4 linked regions of the Homo sapiens genome follow. The protein of the gene in region 1 purifies or fractionates together with the protein of each later gene. This does not show direct contact. Each region holds a gene or a part of one and is shown in the gene's direction. Other genes may lie near its edges. The genes, in order: FBXO10, ANGEL1, PASK and FAT3.

The links.
Region 2: the proteins of FBXO10 (region 1) and ANGEL1 purify together in Homo sapiens (affinity purification with mass spectrometry; one large-scale study listed by BioGRID and IntAct). This does not show direct contact.
Region 3: the proteins of FBXO10 (region 1) and PASK purify together in Homo sapiens (affinity purification with mass spectrometry; one large-scale study listed by BioGRID and IntAct). This does not show direct contact.
Region 4: the proteins of FBXO10 (region 1) and FAT3 purify together in Homo sapiens (affinity purification with mass spectrometry; one large-scale study listed by BioGRID and IntAct). This does not show direct contact.

Annotation. Positions count from the first base shown.
Region 1 is NC_000009.12:37,519,720-37,525,658, reverse strand, and holds part of FBXO10 (F-box only protein 10), read left to right. Parts: intron 1-486; coding exon 487-557; intron 558-2,681; coding exon 2,682-2,834; intron 2,835-3,170; coding exon of another isoform or gene 3,171-3,202; exon of another isoform or gene 3,203-3,313; intron 3,314-3,820; coding exon 3,821-4,090; intron 4,091-5,939. UniProt on the Homo sapiens protein: Substrate-recognition component of the SCF (SKP1-CUL1-F-box protein)-type E3 ubiquitin ligase complex. Mediates the ubiquitination and degradation of BCL2, an antiapoptotic protein, thereby playing a role in apoptosis by controlling the stability of BCL2.
Region 2 is NC_000014.9:76,805,663-76,811,601, reverse strand, and holds part of ANGEL1 (protein angel homolog 1), read left to right. Parts: intron 1-1,958; coding exon 1,959-2,543; intron 2,544-3,453; coding exon 3,454-3,680; intron 3,681-4,099; coding exon 4,100-4,169; intron 4,170-4,752; coding exon 4,753-5,186; intron 5,187-5,939.
Region 3 is NC_000002.12:241,138,372-241,144,310, reverse strand, and holds part of PASK (PAS domain-containing serine/threonine-protein kinase), read left to right. Parts: intron 1-1,236; coding exon of another isoform or gene 1,237-1,278; coding exon 1,279-1,474; intron 1,475-3,557; coding exon 3,558-3,790; intron 3,791-4,255; coding exon 4,256-4,426; intron 4,427-5,516; coding exon 5,517-5,657; intron 5,658-5,939. UniProt on the Homo sapiens protein: Serine/threonine-protein kinase involved in energy homeostasis and protein translation. Phosphorylates EEF1A1, GYS1, PDX1 and RPS6.
Region 4 is NC_000011.10:92,793,946-92,799,884, forward strand, and holds part of FAT3 (protocadherin Fat 3 isoform 1 precursor), read left to right. Parts: intron 1-3,890; coding exon 3,891-5,939.

The DNA of each region.
Region 1 (5,939 bases):
AACATCGCTTGAACCCAGGAGGTGGAGGTTGCAGTGAGCTGAGATTGTGCCACTGCACTCCAGCATGGGCAACAGAGCAAGACCTCAAAAAAAAAAATGTATATATATATGCATGGGTATATATGTAGATGACAGTCAAGTGAGGCTACAGTGAACTGGATATCATTGTGCGTGTATAGCATAGTTGGGGGTTTAGTTTTTGGTCAAGCTGTCCCAGTGACAACTAAACATTTCTATATGCCTGGCTTATAAAGGGACTTTAGGAAATGCTTTTATGCCCCTGTGGACTTGAGCCATAGGGAGGCTCAAGTGATCCTCCACCCCAGCCTCCCAAGAAGCTGGGACTACAGGTGCACACCACCACACCCGGCTAATTTTTTTGTATTTTTTGTAGAGACAGGGTTTCCATGAAAGAAGGCAGTCTCCTGGAAGCATGACATTGATGCCCTGGGCTCACCTCTTTGTTTTGTTTTCCTTCCACTTTAGCGGGAACCACATCTTCAAGGGCCGTGCTGCCGGCATAGCAGTGAATGAGAACGGCAAAGGCCTCATCACAGGTACGGATGGGAACTGCCTGGCACCTGGCAGCCAGGCCAAGGTCCCCTGGCGTCACCCCCCAGCTTCAGGACCTCACACTGCTCCTTTACCCCCACAGACTATGGCCTCTTTCTCTGACTGGTGGGCTGGAGCTCAGGGACGCCAGCTGCATGGTGGCTGTGCTTCTTACAGGAGGGCCTAACACAGAGTGGGTGTCTGCTCCTTCCAGGCCCAGAGCCGACAGGCCCTCACAAGGTGGCTCACAGAACAGTTTCAGAAGCACTGATGCCCAACCACCTGTCCAAATCCCTCCTCTTGGTCTTTGTGCGGACCTCTGCCTGCTCTGGAAACCTCCGCCCGGCTAACCCCTGCTTATCCTTTGGGTCTTAGCTTAACTGTCACTTCCTCAGGGAAGCCTTCCCTGACTTCCCCATTGTACACAGATACACTCACTATACCCAGGATGCCTCCTCTCTAGGGCCTTTGACTTAATTTCTTAGTGGTTTGTGGTGTCCGTCTCCTCTGTTATAAAGTGGTAAATTCCACAAGGTGAGGGTCAAGTCCATCTGGTACATCAATGTAGCCTCAGCACAGAGCAGAGCCAGGCCTGGGATATGAAAGGGATTCCGCAAATACTGGTCCAGGGAATCCCCCTGACTGAACTTATCAGACATGGATTGAGCACGTGTGGTATACAGGCCGTGTTCCAGGAGCTACAAGTGCAGCAGTGAACGAGGCTGTCAGCCACTGACATTTTAGGAGAGGAAGCGAATAAATAAATAAAAGCCTACGTATATGAGCAAAAAACATCCCATCTGAGGGTGACAAGTGCTCTATGGATAATTAAGGCAAAAGAGGGACTGGGTAGGCATTTGGGATTGTGTGGTCAGGGCAGCCCTCTGAGAAGGTGACAAGGAAACCAGACCCTGAGTGGGAGTGGCTGGAGGAGCTGGGAAAGAACCTTCCGTGTAGGGCCGCCTGTGAGAACAGACTTGGCATGGCCGAGTGGACATCGCTTGTGGGACTGGAGTGTGGTGCACAAGGGGCCTGCAGTGGGGACATGGAGACAGGAAGAGGCCAGTCACACAGAGACTCCTGAGCCATTGCAGGTGAGGCTAGCGCCTTCTCACAGGCTTGTGGGTAAATGGCCACATTCTGCCTCTGAGGACTCTAAAGCCAGTTTATTTATTTATTTTTTTTGAGACGGAATTTCACTCACTCTTGTTGCCCAGGCTGGAGTGCAATGGCGCGATCTCGGCTCACTGCAACCTCCGCCTCCCAGGTTCAAGTGATTCTTCTGCCTCAGCCTCCCGAGTAGCTGGGATTACAGGCATGTGCCACCACGCCCAATTTTGTATTTTTAGTAGAGACGGGGTTTCTCCATGTTGGTCAGGCTGGTCTCGAACTCCCGACCTCAGGTGATCCGCCCGTCTCAGCCTCCCAAAGTGCTGGGGTTACAGGCGTGAGCCACCGCACCCGGCCTATTCTTTGTTTTGTTTCCTTTTTGTTTGGTTGGTTGGTTTTTTGGACACCAGTGTCACTCACCAAAGCTAGTTTATTCTTTTTTTTGAGGCAGGGTCTCAGTCTGTCATCCAGGCCAGAGTGCAGTGGCTCGATTATAGCCCACTGCAGCCCTGACCTCCAGGGTTCAAGTGATCCTCCCACCCAGCCTCCCAAGAAGCTGGGACTACAGGCACGCACCACCACACCTGGCTAATTTTTTTTGTATTTTTTTTTAGAGACAGGATTTCCCCATTTTGCCCAGGATGGTCTGGAACTCCTGGGCTCAAGTGATCTACCCGCCTTGGCCTCCTAAAGTACTGGGATTACAGGCATGAGCCACCATGCCTGGCCAAAACTAGTTCATTTTTAATCATCAGTCCTCAAGGCCATTGGGTGTATAGTAGGTGCCGGGGAGATAGGAGTGCACAAGATAGACACAAGCCTTGCCCTTGGGGAAAGGAGTCAGCAGATAAGTCCCTGAAACATCAGACAGCAGACAAGATTTACAGTGCTAATTGCTGGCAGGGTAAGGCCAGGGCCTTCTGGTCTGGAGTAGCCTTGATCAAAACTGTCCAAGTCCTATTTGCCAGCACTGGAGCTGGCCCTTGGGTACTGACCTTCTTTTCTGCTTCTCTCCATAGAAAATGTCATCCGTGAGAATCAGTGGGGAGGTGTGGACATCCGCCGTGGAGGGATCCCCGTTCTCAGGAGTAACCTCATCTGCTTTGGCTATTCAGATGGTGTGGTTGTGGGAGACGAAGGCAAAGGCCTCATAGAAGGAAATACCATCTACGGTGAGGAGCTTGTTCCCAACCCAGCCGGGGAGGCAGGAAGCCCAGGTTCCATCTCCAGCTTGTGGGTCCTGAGAAGGTCACTGCCTTTCCCTGTGCCTCAAAGACCTCATCTGAACAGGCACTCTCAGGCCACAGTCACCCAGGCCCTCCCAGAACAAAGAGCCTCTTACAAATCACATTGTAGTCCAGATTGACCCCGTGGGGTTAGCAAAGCAGAAGGCTTTATCCCCTTTTAAAATAGCAAAAGACAGGAGTTGTGTCATGTCTTAAGGACAGGACCATTTCAGCCCTGGCTCATGTGCATCTAACTCCTCTTATCCTTTCTTTTGATCCCAGAGAACGGAAAATATAATGGGAAAACAAGATAATCACAGGAAGAAAACTCTTCTCACTCACGCAGTGACTTTGGGCAGAGCCTTCATCTGTCTGGACTCTATCTCTAATAATACAGTGATAATAATAAAGATGACTCAGGCCCACCTCTCTACTCAGCCCTTTCTATGCATGATCACATTTAATCCTCATGACTGCCTTCTGAAGGAGGCACGGTTATTAACCCCATTTAAAAGATGAGAAAACTGAGGGACAGAGAGAGGTCTGGTAACCTGCTCAGGGTCTCACAGCTGGGAAGTGGTAGGGCTGGGATTCCAACTGAGGCTGCCTCCTATGCAGGGAGGGATTGGTGCCCCCTTGGCACTGTCACTGTGGGCTCATGTGCTTCTGATGTGGACATGTGGCCTGACAGTCCTCAGAGCACTTTCACACTGTGTGGAACGAGCCGAGCTTGTGAGGTTCACCTGATCCTGATGACCTCTCTTGTGTGAAGGTGAAGTCTGCAGCTAGAGCCATCAGGTGGCTTGTCCGAGGTCATTAGCAAGGCAGGGACTCTCTCCCAGGCCAGTGGCTTTTGTTTCCCCTCTCAGGGAGACTCAGGTGCCGCTTCACCTGAGTTCAGTGTCGGTGACCAGCTCCTCTCACTGTCCCAGCTAACAAGGGCTGTGGTGTGTGGATGATGTCGTCCAGCCTCCCCCATGTCACCAGCAACCACGTCAGCTACAATGGCCTGTATGGAGTGGCAGTATTTAGCCAGAAGGATGGCTCCAGCGAGTTACCTCGAGGCCACAGGGCTCAAGAGAACTTCAGCGAGGATGGGGACGCCATCCTCTGGGAGACAGAGCTGGAGAAGGAGGACGACCCACTGCGCCGGCCCATCACCATAGCTCTTGTTGAGTCTAACAGTATTAATCACAATGGAGGTGAGTATACCCCCTCAGCCCCTGCTCAAGAACCTTCCATGGCTCCCCACTGTCTTTTTTTTTCTCCAATTTAAAACTTTTAATTTAATTTAAATTTAAAAGTAAACTTTAATGTCAAAGATGCAAACCTGGGTAGGGCAGAAAAATCACACACAAGGTTGCCACTTCACACTTGGAGGGTTGCACAGCGGCCAGGCAGAGGCGCTCCTCACTTCCCAGACAGTGTGGGGGCCAGGGAGAGGCGCTCCTCACTTCCCAGACAGCGTGGGGGCCAGGGAGAGGTGCTCCTCACTTCCCAGACGGTGGGGCGGCCGAGCAGAGGTGCTTCTTATTTTTGAGACGGTGCGGCCGCCAGGCAGGGCCTTCTGCAGACTGATCCCAACTTGCCCTCAGGCCTCATCAGCCACTTCTTCCAGCCTGATCCCCAATCCTCCTGTATTTATTCATTAAACTTGAATCCATTCTTTCCTGCCTCCTAACCTGCTGACCTCACTCATGCCTTTCTCCCATCCACACGTCCCAAACTAACTTGAACTTCAAAACCTGTTGTGAATATCCCCCTTCATTCCTTCCTCCTTTGAACTGGGCCCTCCCCATCCCCACTGGCACTTGTTATGAGGCCTCGCGACTGTATTTATTTCTGTGGCTGTTTCATCAACACTGATAGGCCATGAACTTGAGACAAAGAACTGAAGCCCACCCAGCTCAGTGCCCCTGTCCCTGCAGTACCAAATCCCACCTCTGGCACACATGCTTTTAATCAACTCTAGGATACATTTCTCAAAATTCAACATCTCCCACGAGATGCATATCATGGTTTAATTGGCAGTGAGTTTTCCTTCTTAGAGAGGCAGAAAATAAAAGTGTTTTAAATCCATGTTATCCTAAACCTGATGAAAAATGGAGGCCAGGTGCCAGGGATCAAGCCTGTAATCCCAGGACTTTGGGAGGCCAAGACTGGGGGATTGCTTGAGGCCAGGTGTTCAAGACCCGCCTGGGCAACATAACAAGACTTGGTTTCTACAAAAAAAAAAAAAAAAAAAAAAGAAGAAGAAGGAGTAGAGAAAGAAAAATTAGTTGGATCTGGTGGCATGTGCCTGTGGTCCCAGCTACTCAGGAGGCGGGGGGATCGCTTGAGCCCAGGAGTTCAAGGCTGCAGTGAGGTGTGATTGCACCACGGTATTCTAGGTGCTCAGAGCTCAGGAGTGACAGGAGCAAGACCCTGTCTTAAAAGGAAAAAAAAAAAAAAAAAAAAGATGGTAGAAGATGTTTGATATTTCTTGAATTAAAAAAAAATAATTACTGTGTAGTTCACCTAACTCCAGGGCTCCCAAAGCCTCCTGATTATCAAAATCACTGTGGGGTGGGGGTGGGAGGGTAGGATGGATGGGTGGGTCGGGAAATGGAGGAAGGCTTATTCAGAACAGATTCCTGGGCCAGGCGCAGTGGCTCACACCTGTAACCCTAACACTTTGAGAGGCCAAGGCAGGAGGATCGCTTGAGTTTAGGAGTTCAAGACCAGACTAGGCAACATAGAGAGACCTCAATCTCTACTGAGAAAAAAAAAATTTTTTTCAGATTAGCTGGGCATGGTGGTACATGCCTGTAGTTCCAACTACTAGGGAGGCTGAAGTAGGAGGATGCTTGAGCTCAGGACTCAGAGTTCGAGGTTGCAGTGAGCTATGATGGTGCCACTGCACTACTGCCTGGGCAATAGAGCAAGACCCTGTCTCTAAAACAAAATAAAATTAAAAGAGATTCCTGGGCCTGGTAAGCACTTGCTTCTGGTAGTGGTAGAGGACAGGGAGATGGATAACCAGCAGCCCCAACCCACTTATTCAGAAAATGA
Region 2 (5,939 bases), on another chromosome or scaffold:
TTAGTGATACAGTATACTAGTCCAGAGGTTTCCAGACCAGTAGAGTTCTAGGGATCTCAGAGGAGGGCCCCCCCCGCCCCCCCACCTACACATTACAGTAGTCCCACTTATATTTACTTGGCATATTTGGTTTCCAGATAAGATTTTTAAAAAACAAAAGCATTCTGCTGCTGAAAATCCACCACCACCACCACCAAAAGACATCTACCAAAATTGAAAGCTAGTAACTTCGTGCATATGAACCAAAGAACCTCTGCCATCTGGTATACACAGAGGATATTTCAAGGGGCAGATAATCAGGAAGTCCTTGAGGCTAAAGCTCAACGACCCAGCCCATACATAGGTTTAGAGCAGGGTTTCTCAATCTCAGCACTGTTGACGTTTTGGACCGGATCATTTGGTGTGGGTCTGTCCTGTGAATTGTTGGAAGTTCAGCAGCGTCTCTGTCCTCTAACCACTAGATGCCAGTAGCAATGCTGCAGTTGTGACAACAACAGTGTCTCTGAACGTTGCTAAATGTCTTCCGAGGGCAAAATCACCGTGGTTAAAACCATTGTTTAGAAGGACATAAATATACATAGACCCCAAACAAGATATTTGAACCGTCTTTCAATATTTGAGCCACTTTTAAGGTTTCTTCCCTTTAAAAAAAAATTGCCAATAAAATGAGTCTAGTGATTGAGGGCCAGCATCGTGCATGTTACTCGTCCTGTGCTGTAAATAAATGGTTGAGTGTGTGAGTGTAGGAGTTGTTTGCTCTCACCAAAATACTGTGCTCAGAGTTTGGGGGCTCTAATTTTAGAGTTTTTCCCACTTTCTTTCTTGCCTGTTGGCTGTCATTGGTGGCTGCAGTATCAGAGAGATGTCAGCTGTCTCTTACTGTCGATTGTTGGCACCTTGTAATTTATAGCCTCTGATGTGTTGTGGAATGGGAAAGCAGATAATGAAGTTTGTGAAGATTTTATTACAATAAGTAGCTTTGAGAAAAGGCTTAAGGGCCCTTGCTAAGATGTAAATTGTATAGATTTTTGAGACTGTCTACTTTAGGACTTTTTCTTTTGGAATACATTAATAGATTAGGGAATTTATACAGCTAGAAAAGCTCAGAGATTATCTAGTTCAAACTTGTCTCTATTTTTTTAAATTTAAAATTTATTTTTTTCTTTTCTTTTCTTTTTTTTTTTGAGATGAGGTCTCACTTTGTCTCCCAGGCGGGAGTGCAGAAGGGCAGTCATAGCTCACTGCAGCGTCAACCTGGGCTCAAGCAATCCTCTCATTTCAGCCTCCCAAGTAGCTAGGACCATGGGCATGTGCCACCGTACTTGGCTAATTTTTAATTTTTTGTAGAGATGAAGTTTCGTTATGTTGCCCAGGCTGGTCTCTAACTCCTGGCCTCAAGTGATCCTGCTGCCTCTGTCTCTGCCTCCCAAAGTGCTGGGAGCCACCACGCCTGGCCTCTTGTCCCCATTTTACAGTCAAGAGTAACTTCATCTGACTAGGGGCATTGTTCAAGGTCAGTTTTATTAATTTTGGTGCTAGATCATAACCCACAGTTCTGATTAACAGTCAGTTGCTGGTTGCAATGTAATGTGATTCTTAGAACCAAAGAGTTTGTTAATAGTAGTCTTAACTAAGTCATGTAAAAGGAGTGTGGGTATATGTGCCCATCTGTGTTCTAGATTATGTGAGACAGCTGTTCTTTCATGCACTGAATATTTATCAGATCCCTGCCATATAAATTAGTCAACACTTGTAAAGAACAGTGCCTGGCACATAGTGAATACTTTGCCCTGATGATGATGATGATGTTCAGGCATTAAGGTAGGCAGGCTCAGTGATGGTACAATGATGAGCAAGGTGGATATGGGTCTTGCTTTTATTGGGCTTATGTTTTAGCTGGGAGAATAGTGTGGGTTGGATGACAGTCTTATAACCTGGTATTTTGGCTTTCCTCCTAGATGCTTTCTTCACATGTCGAAAAAATGTCCTTCTGGCGAACAGCTCATCCCCCCAGGTAGAGGGCGACTTTGCCATGGCCCCTCGGGGCCCTGAGCAGGAGGAATGTGAGGGCCTGCTGCAGCAGTGGCGAGAAGAAGGGTTGAGCCAGGTGCTCTCAACTGCAAGTGAGGGGCCCCTTATAGATAAAGGACTAGCCCAGAGCAGCCTGGCACTTCTGATGGATAATCCTGGAGAAGAGAATGCTGCTTCAGAGGACAGGTGGTCCAGCAGGCAGCTGAGTGACCTTCGGGCTGCAGAGAACCTGGATGAGCCTTTCCCTGAGATGCTAGGAGAGGAGCCACTGCTGGAGGTGGAGGGGGTGGAGGGCTCCATGTGGGCAGCTATCCCCATGCAGTCGGAGCCCCAGTATGCAGACTGTGCTGCCCTCCCAGTGGGTGCCCTGGCCACAGAGCAGTGGGAAGAGGACCCAGCGGTGTTGGCCTGGAGCATAGCACCTGAGCCTGTGCCCCAGGAAGAGGCTTCCATCTGGCCCTTTGAGGGCCTGGGGCAGTTGCAGCCTCCCGCAGTGGAAATACCATATCATGGTGAGTCTGACAACTGGTTGAGTGAGCCAAGGGAACAGGGTGTCTCAGGTGTGGGCAGAGCCATTGCTAAAGAGAAGATTCTATGGTAGGGAGCTCTGCCACTGCATTCTATTTTTCTAAGAATCTTGGCATGTCAGATCTAGAGGGTCCTTACAGATCATCTCATCCAGCCCCATGGTTTTAAAGGTGAAATAATCAGAGTGCAGAGAGGTAGTAGAACATGACTAAAGTCATAAAGCCAGGTAGGGGAAGAACTGAAAGCATACTCTAGTTCTGATTCTCCACAATGTCATTTCTCTGGTGGTAACCCTAGGGCTTTCTGGAGGTAGGGATAGAGAGGTCTCAGGGCCTCTAGTCTCTGTCTCAGTCACAATTACCTCAGTTTTATTTGTGTTGTATATTGAGAGTCCGTTAAAATTTGAAGAATGGCGTCAATAGATTTGAAATCCACTATGCTGCCACATGCCATAGGGGAGATGGGGACACACCATAGTTTCTAGTCCCACAGACTCTTCCAGGTTTAGGGGTCAGAAAACACCCAGGGCTGCAATTACTCTAAAAATGTCTTTAACCTCAGGTGACTGTTAAGCACACTCATCTGAGTGATTCTCCGGAGATTCATGGATTTATCAAAAATGAGAGTGTGTCAGCTTCCATATATGGAGCATCTATTAGATGCTAGGTGCTGGGGATGTAGTGGTGAGCAGGCCAAGATTGTCTCTGGCCTTGTGGAGCTAACCATGTCATCTGAAGAATGTCCATAGAAATCAATTCCCCACAGAGAGGGATGGGTGACAGGGAAGATGGAAAAAGGAACTTCAGGCATAATATTACTGAGTCAGGAGTGGAGATGGCAGCACCTCTGCATTACTCATACTTGCCATTGAGTGCTTCTCCCAATCCTTTGCAGAAATTTTGTGGCGAGAATGGGAGGATTTCTCCACCCAGCCAGATGCTCAGGGCCTGAAGGCAGGAGATGGCCCTCAGTTCCAGTTCACTCTGATGTCTTATAACATCCTGGCTCAGGACCTGATGCAGCAGAGCTCAGAGCTCTATCTACATTGCCATCCAGACATCCTCAATTGGAACTATCGCTTCGTGAACCTCATGCAGGAATTCCAGCACTGGGACCCTGATGTGAGTGAAGAGGGGGAATTGCCATCTTGCATTGTTGCTGGACCTGGGCTGTTGCCCAGTGCTCTTAGAAGATGAGTTCAACCCATAGTTGTTCAAATGATTGGAGTCCTATCTAGGGCTGGAGCTTGCCTGCCTGGTGTCAGTGAGTTGTTGGCAGATGCTGAGAAGAATCTCCCTAGATGTGCACTTCCCAGCACCTTTATGCAGGAAGGGAGGCTTGAGGGATTCAAGGAGCAGGAAAATCCAGTGCACATCTCTAATCTCTTCAGCTTAAGTCTGGGCCTGTTCTTGCTGTTGGTGACTCTGGGAAGTTTCAGTGTGACCCAGCAGCTTCCCACCTGGCCTCAGGACCTGCTCCTAGAGGGTGGGGGTCACATTCCAGCACTCTGGAGTGATTGGGTTTCTTGTCAATTTCCCAGATCCTGTGTCTCCAGGAAGTCCAGGAAGATCATTACTGGGAGCAGCTGGAACCCTCTCTGCGAATGATGGGTAATGCAGCTCCCTGGGATGCTTGCCAGCTTTTCTTTCCACAGACTTGTCTACTCTCTCCTGAAGACCCCATCCTTTCCTTTTGTCTTAGTAAACCCTCAGTTTCACCTGTGAGCTAGCTCCTTCCATGTGTGCCTGAGAAAGTAGAATTCTGCAGTTTTATAGCAATTCTGACATACATTGCTATTTGATCCTTGAAGTAACCAATGTGGTGAGACTGTTATTCCCATTTTACAGATGAGGAAACTGAAGTTCTGAAAACTCATGTGACTTCCTCAGAATCACAAAGCTACAAAGCTAGTAGATGTGGAGCTAGGAATCCAGCTTGTCTGACTCTAGATTCTGTGCTCTTTTCTATCATGTTACATTGCTTCATACCCTTCCCTCCTTGCCCTTCCAGCCCCTCAGTCAGCTGGTTACGATGTAAGGGGGAACCTGCTGAACCAAGGAAGTGGCAAAGGCTCCTTTACTGAGTAGCAGGAACAATGCCTCAGGGGCATACACTGGGACTGCTGGTGCTGGTTGGAAGGGATTCAGGCTTTAAGGACTCTGACCCATCTCTTTGGTGGGATTTTCCTTGCAGGCTTTACCTGTTTCTACAAGAGGAGGACTGGGTGTAAAACCGATGGCTGTGCTGTCTGCTACAAGCCTACCAGATTCCGCCTGCTCTGTGCTAGCCCTGTGGAGTACTTCCGGCCTGGCTTGGAGCTACTTAATCGGGATAATGTGGGCTTAGTGTTGCTACTGCAACCACTCGTCCCAGAAGGCCTGGGACAAGTCTCGGTGGCCCCGCTGTGTGTGGCAAATACCCATATCCTTTACAACCCACGCCGGGGCGATGTCAAGCTGGCCCAGATGGCCATTCTCCTGGCGGAAGTGGACAAGGTGGCCAGACTGTCAGATGGCAGCCACTGCCCCATCATCTTGTGCGGGGACCTAAATTCTGTCCCTGATTCACCTCTCTACAACTTCATCAGGGATGGAGAGCTCCAGTACCATGGGATGCCAGCCTGGAAGGTGAAATGGGAGAGGCCACGGTGTGGGTGGGAACATGGTCTAAGAGAGATTCAGGCGTTAGCATCAGTGCTTCTTCTGTGGCAGGGACCTCAGTACACCTGCTCTGGCCTGCTCCTCCTTTTTCTTGTTATGTTGAATAGCTTGTACCCAAGCCTGGAAGTTAAGAATTCTTGAGTACTTCGGCATATTGGAATTTTTTTCAGTTTTTATCATTAATATTTTTAATTCACAAGTAATACGTAAGTACATACTTGAAGGAACTTAAACATTATACAGTAAGACACAGGCCTGTTTTATTACCCACATTCCCTATTCTATTCTCTTAGAGTAACATAATGACCGTTCTAAGTTTGGTGGTAGTCTTTTAGCTTGTTTTCTTTGCATTTACAGTGATATCTATGTTCCTATGATATTGTAATCAGTGTTTACATTTGTTAAGCACTTAAGTGTGTGCCATGTGCTATTTTAAGCACTTTATACTCATTAACTAATTAGTTTTCACAGTTTCCATCATGGCTTCCATTTTATAAATGAGGAAACTAAAGCTCAGAAAAGTGAAGTAATTTGCCCTAGGTTATGCGGGTAGTTAGTGGTGGAGCCAGGATTTGTAACCAGGTGGTCTGGCTGCAGAGCTCTTACCCTCAAATACTGTGCTGTCATTGCTTATAACAGCCAATATGTAATCTACCATGTGTGTTTTATAAACATGATACACTACTGTATGTTTCATTTGTAGCTTGTTTTTTTTCACTC
Region 3 (5,939 bases), on another chromosome or scaffold:
CATGAGGACAGGGTATTGGTAAATGTGTACTTGTGTTTCAAGTGCTTGCCAATATGCAGGATGGAACTCTTAAGTATCTCCACTCTGCAGGGTGGTCACATGAATGTATACATGTGACAAGACTGCATGGAACACGTGCTCACATGCGCGCACACACACACGCTCATGTACACATGTGCACACGCACACACACGCACGGACACACACGCACACCCACACACACACACACCTGCAGGTAAATGCCTTGAAATCTGGACGAGGCTGATGGATGGTATCAAGTCAGTTTCCTGGCTGTGACACTCTCCTGTAAGATGTCACCATGAGAGGGAACTCGGAAGAGTATGTGAGATTTTCCTGTATTTCCACCCTGTATCAGCATTTGAATCATGTATAAGAGAAAAGCTAAAAATACAAATCTCTGGTGCCAGGCCTGTCTCTAGGAGACATGGCCTCTTGGCCATGGCCCCCGCGACCTCACTTGTTGGCAGCACCCAGGTGATTCTGTGCACAGCTGGTCGGATGGTCAGGACTCACTGTTTAGGGGAAAGCTGAGACCATGGGAGCTGTGCAGCCCCCACGTGCTGATGGGTTCATCATGACCTGGGAGTATTTTCAGTTGGTGTGTACCTGCAGTCCCTGCCTTCCCTCATGGCTCCTTCCCACCCTGTTCTTTGTTTTCCTCTCTCTCTCCTTCCCTCTTTCCCATATCTTCCTATGTATTTTTCTTGGAAAGAGCTTCTTTTTTTTTTTCTTTTTTTTTGACATGGAGTCTCTCTCTATCGCCCAGGCTGGAGTGCAGTGGTGTGATCTCGGCTCACTGCAAGCTCTGCCTCCCGGGTTCACACCATTCTTCTGCCTCAGCCTCCCGAGTAGCTGGGACTACAGGCACCCGCCACCATGCCCGGCTAATTTTTTGTATTTTTAGTGGAGACGGAGTTTCACAGTGTTAGTCAGGATGGTCTCGATCTCCTCGATCTCCTGACCTCGTGATCCGCCCTCCTCAGCCTCCCAAAGTGCTGGGATGACAGGCGTGCGCCACCGTGCCTGGCCCGGAAAGAGCTTCTTTTAGCACCACTTTGGGTGGACCATTCTCCCATTGCGGGTTCTGACCCAGGATGGCGGTTGGTGGTGTATGTCTTTTGGGGCCGAGCTGAACTCAGCATTATAAATTAGTTGGTTAAACTGTCTTTGTGTTTTTGCATTGCAGATGTTAATCAGCTTCATGTTGTTTTCTAGTTGTTAGAGTTGGAAGCTTGGCAGTTGGCCTCCCTTCTTCCCATGGAGGACGGGGGCTTAACAGCCTTTGAAGAGGACCAGAGATGCCTTTCCCAGAGCCTCCCCTTGCCAGTGTCAGCAGAGGGCCCAGCTGCACAGACCACTGCTGAGCCCAGCAGGTCGTTTTCCTCAGCCCACAGACACCTGAGCAGAAGGAATGGGCTTTCCAGACTCTGCCAGAGCAGGACAGCGCTCTCTGGTAATGACCTTCGACCACTGCAGGCCTTAGCGCGTGGAAATACAAATGTGGAGTTGCTCTGTGTTCTCATGGAAACCCTCTCACCAGGGATTGAAGTCACTCTATTCCTGCAGAGAAAAGTTCGTGGTTTAAGTGCTCGGCTCATGCTGGCAGATGACTCCGGCAGGACCCTTCCTGCTGCTTTTACTCTGCTGTGATTCCCAGGCAGCTGGCGCTTCTTTTCAGGCAGCAGGTGGAACTCACCTTCACATTTCAGGGTCAAGTTACAACAAAATGTTATTTCTTACTTTAGAGTATGTGAGAACGCTGTTCTAGGTTAGGCTATTTTACTTAGGGAATTGCAGCTTTGCTCGTGCAGTTTACTGAGCTAAACGCGGTTTAGCTGGTGGACCAAGAATCATGGGGCAGAAGTCTGTTGGTGCCTCCTATGTCCAGATTCCGTTGGTGCCTCCTTTGTCCAGGCACCCCAAAGGACTGGGCCATGGTGAGGAAGGAAGCGTCACTTGCCTTTCAGGGGCTGTCTGATGGAGGCACTTGGGGAGACAGCAGGCTGTGTGCTTGAAGTTGGGGTAGACCTGGAAAATGGGGAAGTGGGGCATAGAGCTGCGGGAAATGGTGGCTGGGAGTCTGGTCTCCAGGTCAAGGAGCACTTCGACACTGGAGTAGGAGGGTGTTGGAGCTGAGCTTGTGCACTGGAGTGTCTGAGGGTGTAGAGCGGAGGGCCCTGTGGAGAGTGCCCAGGATACTGCAGGGAGGGGTGGGCTGGGAGGCACACAGCGCCCTTGGGAGTGGGCTTCACCCAGGCGCTGATCAGGAATGTTCTCAGTGAGTGTTGACAGGTGTGTTCCTTTTTTGGAGCATCATTCTGGTGGCTGCATGAGGAGCAGGGGTGGGAGCCGGAGGTACAGGGCCTTGAGACATGAGAAGGAGCTGCGCTTGGTGACTGCTGTCTGGGGAAGAGCAGGGGCGAGAGTGGCTGGATGGCCACGTGGTTTCCAGCCTCAGAGAATGGTCGGGGTCAGGCCACTCACTGAGAAAGTCAGGGGTCCTGGCTGGAGGACATGGAGGGGAGGGGATGGGAGAGAAATGGAAGGGTCAGGTCTTGAGTGCTTGGTTTTGAGCACTGGAAGAATGTATCTGGTGTCTCCAGAGATGGGGAAGCAGGCGAGTGGGCCGTGGGAGGTCCAGGCTGGAGGTGCGAGTGTGAGAGTCTTCAGTGCATTTCTAATTAGATGTATTTAAAGCTACCGAGGAATGGGTGAGATGGAGCCAGGGTCACTGAGAGGTGGGAGGTGGGGGAGCCCAGGTGCCCGAGGAGGGTGGTGTGGGAGGAGGGTGAGGCCTGAGGAATGACGGGGCTGAGGGTTTTGGGAGCCATTGGAGGCGTTGCTGAGAGAACGCTGCACAAGGAGCTCTTGAATCGTAGGAACGCTTCCAAGGAGGAGGTGACGGGGCAGCCACCGGAGTGGCCATGGGGTCTTGGAATGACTGACAGAGGACAGAAGGTGGGAAGGAAGGAACCTTTGAGTGTAATTAAGCTTTTTTGTTTTTTGGGACAAGGTCTGACTGTTGCTCAGGCTGGAGTGCAGTGGCGCAGTCATAGCTCGCTGCAGTCTCAAACTCCTGGGCTCAGGCAATCCTCCTGCCTTAGCCTCCTGAGTAGATGGGGCTGCAAGGGCACGCCACTATGCCCAACTGATTTTTACAAATTTTATTTTTAGTAGGGACAGGGTCTCGCTGTGTTGTCCAGGCTGGTCTTGAACTCCTGAACTCAAGCAACCTTCCTGCCTCAGCCTTCCAAAGAACTGGGATTATAGGCACGCCTGGCTTTGAGTGTAATTTAGACACAGAAGTGTTGATCTTATGCTGTTTGTGCTTCCGAGTGGACCTGGTGGTTGCCTAAGTGGATTCTGGGGACCATGTTCAGACACGCAGTGAGAGTGTGTGTTAGCTGTGCAGACTGACTTAATCCTTAGATCTTTTTGCAGGAGTTGAGGGCAAGGGCTGTGTGCTTTGCCTGTTTCAGAAGGTGGACTCTGGCAGCTGTGTGAAGTCTAAAGCTTCGCTTCGCTTCTCTTTTCAGAAGACAGATGGAGCTCCTATTGTCTATCATCACTGGCTGCCCAGAATATTTGTACAAGTAAACTGCACTGCCCTGCTGCCCCTGAGCACACGGACCCGTCCGAACCGCGGGGCAGTGTGTCCTGCTGCTCCCTGCTGCGGGGACTGTCCTCAGGGTGGTCCTCACCTCTGCTTCCGGCCCCTGTGTGCAACCCTAACAAGGCCATCTTCACGGTGGATGCCAAGACCACAGAGGTATTTGCTTCTCTTTTAGATCCAGCTGTGTAGATGTGGATTTGTGGTTTGTGCCTTAAACCTGGGATTTGTGTGTTTTAATGCAATTAGAAAAACATTTGGGCACTTCGGGAGGTGGGAAGTTTGCTTGAGCCCAGGAGTTCAAGACCAGCCTGGGCAACATAGCAAGATCCCATCTCTACAAAGAAATTAGCCAGGTGCGGTGGCACACACCTGTAGTCCCAGCTACCAGGGAGGCTGAGGCAGGAGGATCACTTGAACCCAGGAGTTCAAGGTTGCAGTGAGCTCTGATTGCGCCGCTGCAGTGAGCTCTGATTGCGCCACTGCACTCCAGCCTGGGCAACAGAGTGAGACCCTGTCTGTCAGGAAAAGGCTGGCTTCTGCATGGTCGTCCTGGGCTGTTCTGGGCAGCTGGTGGAGCTGCTGGGGATGTCTGCATCCTTGCTCCTCTTTGTGATTCCTCAGATCCTGGTTGCTAACGACAAAGCTTGCGGGCTCCTGGGGTACAGCAGCCAGGACCTGATTGGCCAGAAGCTCACGCAGTTCTTTCTGAGGTCAGATTCTGATGTGGTGGAGGCCCTCAGCGAGGAGCACATGGAGGCCGACGGCCACGCTGCGGTGGTGTTTGGCACGGTGGTGAGTGGATGCGGGTGCAGCGTTCAGTCTGGCCTCAAGACCAGCAGTGTGTGGCAGGAACAGCTCAGTGTTCCCTACCAGGAGCTCTGCTGGGGGTTGGGTGGCACCAGGACATCTCAGCTTCTTCAGCTGAAAATGTCATCCCAGGCGCCGTTTCCCCGCTTCAGCTGCAGTGGGGGTGGGGGCCCTTTAAGAACGAATCATCGCAGGAATGGACACTGTGGCTGTGGCTGGACTCCTGGGAGGTGTCGTGGGTGGCCCTTGCTTTGTCTGAGGGCTGTAGCTTCACTAATGTTTTGCAGTCCTGCCGGGCAGCACATCAGATGCTCAAGAGTAATATGGTTTTATTGTCTATTGATTTTTACATTCTGTTTGGTGTTTGTGGGAGCGGGCGGGGGTGTTGGCCTGGAAGCATTTCCCTAGACAGTGTTGATTCTCTCACCTGTGCCATGTGTCCAACCTGGATGTTGACAGGTGAGCTGAGTTGGATGTGGAGGACTGAGCCCAAGGCATGGAAAAAGCCCAAGGCATGGCTGATTGTAGGGTTTCCCCTCGTCAGCCGGTCGGGGACTGGGGGAGTAGCGTTGGAGGGCAGTGGAGGTTGGGGTATGATCTGAGGCTCTAGTAGTCATCCAGATCCTCCAGGTTGCCTGTTTCCCACCTAGTGTGTGGCTTTCACACAGAAGACCCCATTGCTTGAACTGAACTGATGTCACAGGCTTAGGACCAATTGTATCAGAAAATCACTGGTTCAAGAAACTGACTACTAAGAAGAAAAAAACTAAGATATTCACCATGTGTTGGTGTCTGTTTCTTTAAGAAATAACAGATACTGCTTTTTTCACCCTGCAATATTACCATGAACTGAGAATGAAATCTACTCTCTTGATAAAACTTGCACTTGGAGATTTTAATGTTCAGTATGGGAAATCTTGTTTGTGCTTTGGTAAATTTCTGAAATGAAAATCAGGTAAGCAGAAGTTGAAAACGTTGCAGTGCCTGGAGTTTGGGCCTCCTGGAGGCAGGTGCCCCACCCATACTGGTCTTTTGGGTTCATGGCATGCAGGTGTGAACCTGTCTGTTTCCACAGGTGGACATCATCAGCCGTAGTGGGGAGAAGATTCCAGTGTCTGTGTGGATGAAGAGGATGCGGCAGGAGCGCCGCCTATGCTGCGTGGTGGTCCTGGAGCCCGTGGAGAGGGTCTCGACCTGGGTCGCTTTCCAGAGCGATGTGAGTGTGCAACTTTGCCTCATGTCTCATGGACGCTGGAGCCGGCGTCGTTCTCCTCTTCAGCAAGTGCTGGTCCCTGTCTCATTCCTTTGGGAAGAAAGAGAGGATGAGGAGCCTGGAGGGTCTGCCCAGTGGTACCCTCGCTGATTGCGTGTGCTTGGGCAGGGAACGAACTTCCTATACTTCAGTTCCTCACCTGTGAACTGGGGCATAATCATAACTCCTCATAAGATTGTTTCAACATTTAAATGAGATAATATATGTAAACCCCCCAGGATAGTA
Region 4 (5,939 bases), on another chromosome or scaffold:
AAGTTCTTTCATTGAATGATAACTTAGAACTATTTCTTGTATTAGGCACCCACATTTTACATGGGTCTGTGCTAAGCTCTACTTAAAAAAAGAAAAAGAAAAGACATGAGTTCATAATAGCAAAGTTTCCGGAGAGAATTTACCTATTTTTTTTCTAGGTTTCCATGGAATTTCCTTTCAATCTAAAGCCTGACCAGTGTTTTTTTAGAAATGCTATTTTACATCTTTTATTTTTCACAGGACATTTTTATTACTTAATTATATAATCTTTGTTCTTTGGGTTCCACAAATAATATAAGGAAACTTTTCCAAAAAATGAATATTTAAATCACATCCCAGAAAATGTCACCTAACCCAACAACTCTTTTTATTCTTTCTATGGTTTTTTCCAATGTTGTGTTTTTTTCTTTTCCCCGTATTCATTCATGCATATACATTGTTTCATGTCACTGTAATTATTTAGATATAGGGTTTTATTTCTACTTTTCTTACCATGTTCTAAACATTAGCTGTGTGTCTCTACCTGCTTTTTATATTTGTCATTAAGCCTGCTACTTATACTCCTTTTAGATAGCCAGATAATGTTTCAACCAGTTTGGAGTTTCTTAAGGAGTAATTTAACTTACCATCCAACCGAAAAGACTGCTCTGCTTATCTTTTGACCTCTACAGACTACAGCATGGTGCCCAGTCGTTTCTTTAACTGACTAAAACAAGACAGAACAGTTATTTCCTTAAAACATCTTTCATAAAGAAAACCCAAACTTCCAGAAAACCATGGGAACAATTGATATCGCAAAAAAAATGACCTTTGATTGTATGTAAGAAACTATTGAGGATTACAATGTTCACAATAAATCTCAAATGACCAGCAGGGCTCTTCACAGACAGACAGACAAACCCACACTGGTCCGCACTGGTCCTAGAGGAGCAAGTTTCTTCCCAGTTGAGGGTGGGAGACAGGCAGATCCCAGATGCTTCAGCACTTTGAAGCAAATGACAAATGGCTGTGTAAAGTATTATGTTTTATTTAACTTTTCTCACACACATCAGATAAGCAAGATTTCACTCTGTTTATTGGTGGGCTATAAATTTCCTGTCTCCTGCCTGTCCTCTAAAGTAACTACGGAAGCTTTTTATTTTGGCCTGAAGGACTGAGGCAGAATTTGAGTGCAGAGCTTCAGGTCTTATATCTAGTTTGAGTTTTGTGTTTGGTGTCAATGGTGAGTCTGAGGCAGGATTGTACAAGAGAGACTGGGACTGAGTTGAGTTCGGGTGAGGGCATATGGATCCCAAGATGCATATGAATAGAGAGTTTAAAATATTTTTTTTAGATTTACCTCTCCTCTCAATCATTCAACAAATATTAAGCAACTTCTTTGTAGCAGATGCTGTGTTGTGTACTAGATAAGGAATGATAAGAAAAGCACAGCTTTTATTCAATTGCCAAAAATCTACAAGAGGCCATAGATTCCAAAAAACAAACAGAGGCCAATTTTTCAGGATTCAAGTGTAGCAGGAAAGAATAAGCAGGAAGTGGATTCCAAGAGAATGGGTCAGTGTGTCAAAGAGGGAAAGAGGAGAAGGGCCCACTTTGGACCTGATGTATCAGCACACCATTCTGGAAGCGTGTCACAAGCAGATCAGCGGCCATGGGATAGCAGGATTATGAATTTCTACTTGAGGCCAGGCACAGTGGCTCGTGCCTGTAATCCCAGCATTTTTGGAGGCCAAGGCAGGTGGATCACTTGAGGTCAGAAGTCTGAGACCAGCCTGACCAACGTGGCAAAACCCCGTCTCTACAAACATGAAAATTAGCCAGGTGTAGTGGTGCCTGCCTGCAGTCCCAGCTACTCTGGAGGCTGAGGCAGGAGAATCACCTGAACCCAGGAGACAGAGGTTGCAGTGAGCCAAGATTGCACCACTGCACTCCAGCCTGGATGACAGAGCGAGACTCCATCTCAAAAAAAAACAAAAAATTATATTTGAGGTCAAAAGCTGGCTCCCTGCCATCCCCACCATAATCTATCTTTCTGGGCATGAAGAAATCTGCCGGGTGTGGAGTGAGGGAGGACTTACCTAGAAACTCTGCAGTCGGGCACCATAATCAGTGAACACCGAGATCCCTGGCTCCAGTAGCATTCATCAGTCAGGGTTGCATGTTGGTGCCATCACTGGAAGGTGACCATTGCTTAGGTGAAGTGATTTCCCCTTATAAAGTTCTGTGGATCACCTGTTGGATTCACACTCAATTCTATGACACTATTCATTGCAAGCTTGAACGTTTACTCATAAGATCATTGAACTTTTTATTATTGTCATCACAAAATGGCCATGTTTAGGTGGCAAAGTAATAAATCATGCCGACATCAAAGACAACATTGTTTAATATTCACATTTGGGGGGGCTGGAATCAAAATGACCTCTTTATTAGATATACTTTGTCTTTTAAAATAAGCAAGTATCTTCTTGAAATAGATGTTACATGAACATGACCATTTTGTGTTCAGACATGGAAAACTTTATATAATTAGCATGTAGGAAGAGGTATGTAGACACATCTCATAACTGCCCTGAAAATCCTGGTCCCTATTTTAATGATTTTAACATTTAAATTATATACCTATCATACTACAATACTCAGAAAGAAAAGTCCAGATAGAGTTGAATAACCAAGATCTTTAACTTTTGATTGGAAAGGATCTCAACACAGAAGTATATGTGTTCTTTGAGAAGTATGAGAAAGCCTGATAAGAGAAGCAAAAAGCAACTTGGTGAGGGATGCAACTTCACACTACCCACTGCCTTTCAGCTCTGTCACCACCTACCTTCTTTACATACTCCACATTGTGTCTTCCCCATTTTTTATTCCTCTGTTATTTCTCTCATTCTCAACAATCCCAGATTTCGAACCACAACATGTTTCTGAAGCAGAGCTGTAAACTACTACAGTGTCATGGCCAGAGCCCTTCCCCTGCCAGCTCTATCAAAGTGGGGTGCCCAGGTTTCAGTTTCACAAGGATTATGTCTCAGGTTCTTGGTTGCAGTGCTGGTTCAGATTCCCAACAGTTTCTTGGTACACTAGAAACACCTCAAATGCTTGGTGAATAGAATGGTTACAGATTGAGCAACTGCCCTATAACTTTTTATGTTTACTTTTATGTCTAGATGTGTGCATGTGTGTGTTCAGAAGCATGAGAGAGGGGTAGAGCATGAGTGGAGAATAGAAGAGAAGTCAGGAAAATTCATCACACTTACAAGGCAAATAATGACTTGCCAAGAATTCTCCACACCTGACTGAACAAACCCCTTCACCAAAGTAGTGTTTTGGATAAAGTCATTTTTGATAGGGTGAAATAATACCAATTCCATGTAGCGAAGTTTGCTTTTGGGATAATCAGAAAACAACTGACTACTTTATAATGCTCTGAAACTATTCCCACAACCCTCTTTCTTTAAACCTAGAACAGAAAATATGACACTGCTACCTAAACCAGTGGCATTCATATGTGGGCTTCCCAATCTATCTGTCTTCTCACAAGGCTGGAAATAAGGAAGTCCTATACATTCTTAGCAGAAAGATCTCTCCTTCGGGCTCTCTTATTTCCCAACTTGAATGCACATAAGACTGTGTCATTGTCATTGTGTTTTTAACCTGGATCTAGAAGTTACTGATCTGAAATTTACTATAATACTGGGAAACTCATTTTGGTTCCTTTTCAGTACCCCTGAAAGAGAAGCCTCTCATTTTATTTCAGAATGACACAGATGAGTACTATAATTGCTTTCTACTTGCCACATTGCAGTAAGGTACCTATAGATAAAGAGTTAATCAAAAAGATTTCAGTGACCCACATGTAACTCATTTCACCATTGATTTCTGTATTTTAGGGAACACTGGGAACATGTTTAAGATCGAACCGGTCCTAGGCATCATCACCATTTGCAAAGAACCAGACATGACGACGATGGGTCAGTTTGTCCTATCCATCAAAGTCACAGATCAGGGATCCCCGCCAATGTCTGCTACTGCAATTGTGCGCATTTCCGTCACCATGTCTGACAATTCTCACCCCAAGTTCATTCACAAAGACTACCAAGCAGAAGTAAATGAAAATGTTGACATTGGAACATCAGTCATTCTAATCTCTGCCATCAGTCAATCTACCCTCATTTATGAAGTCAAAGATGGAGACATTAATGGGATCTTTACCATAAATCCATATTCTGGAGTCATCACCACTCAGAAGGCCCTGGATTATGAGCGCACATCCTCTTATCAACTCATCATTCAGGCCACCAATATGGCAGGAATGGCTTCCAATGCTACAGTCAATATTCAGATTGTTGATGAAAATGATAATGCCCCAGTTTTTCTCTTTTCTCAATACTCAGGCAGCCTAAGTGAGGCTGCCCCAATTAATAGCATTGTCAGGAGCTTGGATAACAGCCCACTGGTGATTCGAGCCACAGATGCTGACAGCAACCGGAATGCTCTGCTTGTGTATCAGATTGTGGAGTCAACAGCAAAAAAGTTTTTCACGGTGGACTCCAGTACAGGTGCAATCAGAACAATTGCCAACCTGGACCATGAAACCATTGCCCATTTCCATTTTCATGTGCATGTGAGAGACAGTGGTAGCCCCCAACTGACTGCAGAGAGTCCCGTTGAAGTCAACATTGAGGTGACAGATGTGAATGATAACCCACCTGTTTTTACTCAGGCTGTGTTTGAGACTATCTTACTTCTACCTACCTATGTTGGAGTGGAGGTTCTGAAAGTTAGTGCCACAGATCCTGACTCTGAGGTACCCCCTGAACTGACATACAGCCTAATGGAAGGCAGTTTGGATCATTTTTTAATTGACTCAAACAGTGGAGTACTTACCATAAAAAACAACAACCTCTCCAAGGATCACTACATGCTGATAGTTAAGGTGTCTGATGGAAAGTTCTACAGTACCTCCATGGTCACCATCATGGTTAAAGAAGCCATGGACAGCGGCCTCCACTTTACACAAAGCTTCTATTCCACCTCAATCTCAGAGAACAACACTAACATAACCAAAGTTGCTATTGTCAATGCAGTTGGAAATCGCCTTAATGAGCCCTTAAAATACAGCATCTTAAACCCAGGAAATAAGTTCAAGATAAAATCTACCTCAGGGGTCATTCAGACGACTGGAGTCCCCTTTGACCGTGAAGAACAAGAGTTATATGAGCTGGTGGTAGAAGCCAGCCGTGAGCTGGACCATCTGCGTGTGGCCAGAGTGGTGGTCAGGGTTAACATTGAAGACATAAATGACAATTCTCCAGTCTTTGTGGGCCTCCCATACTATGCTGCTGTTCAAGTGGATGCGGAACCCGGGACTCTGATTTATCAGGTGACAGCCATTGACAAAGATAAAGGTCCAAATGGAGAAGTGACCTATGTCCTGCAGGATGACTATGGCCACTTTGAAATTAACCCTAATTCAGGGAATGTTATTTTAAAGGAAGCATTCAACTCTGACTTGTCCAACATTGAGTATGGAGTCACCATCCTAGCCAAGGATGGCGGAAAACCTTCTTTGTCTACATCTGTGGAGCTTCCCATCACTATTGTCAACAAAGCAATGCCTGTGTTTGATAAGCCCTTTTATACAGCATCTGTCAATGAAGACATCAGAATGAACACACCCATCCTAAGCATCAATGCCACCAGTCCAGAAGGCCAAGGCATCATATATATCATTATCGATGGGGACCCTTTTAAACAGTTTAACATTGACTTTGACACTGGGGTCCTGAAAGTTGTTAGCCCTTTGGATTATGAAGTTACATCTGCTTACAAGCTGACAATAAGAGCCAGCGACGCCCTTACTGGTGCTAGGGCTGAAGTCACTGTTGACTTGCTAGTTAATGATGTAAATGACAACCCCCCTATTTTCGATCAGCCTA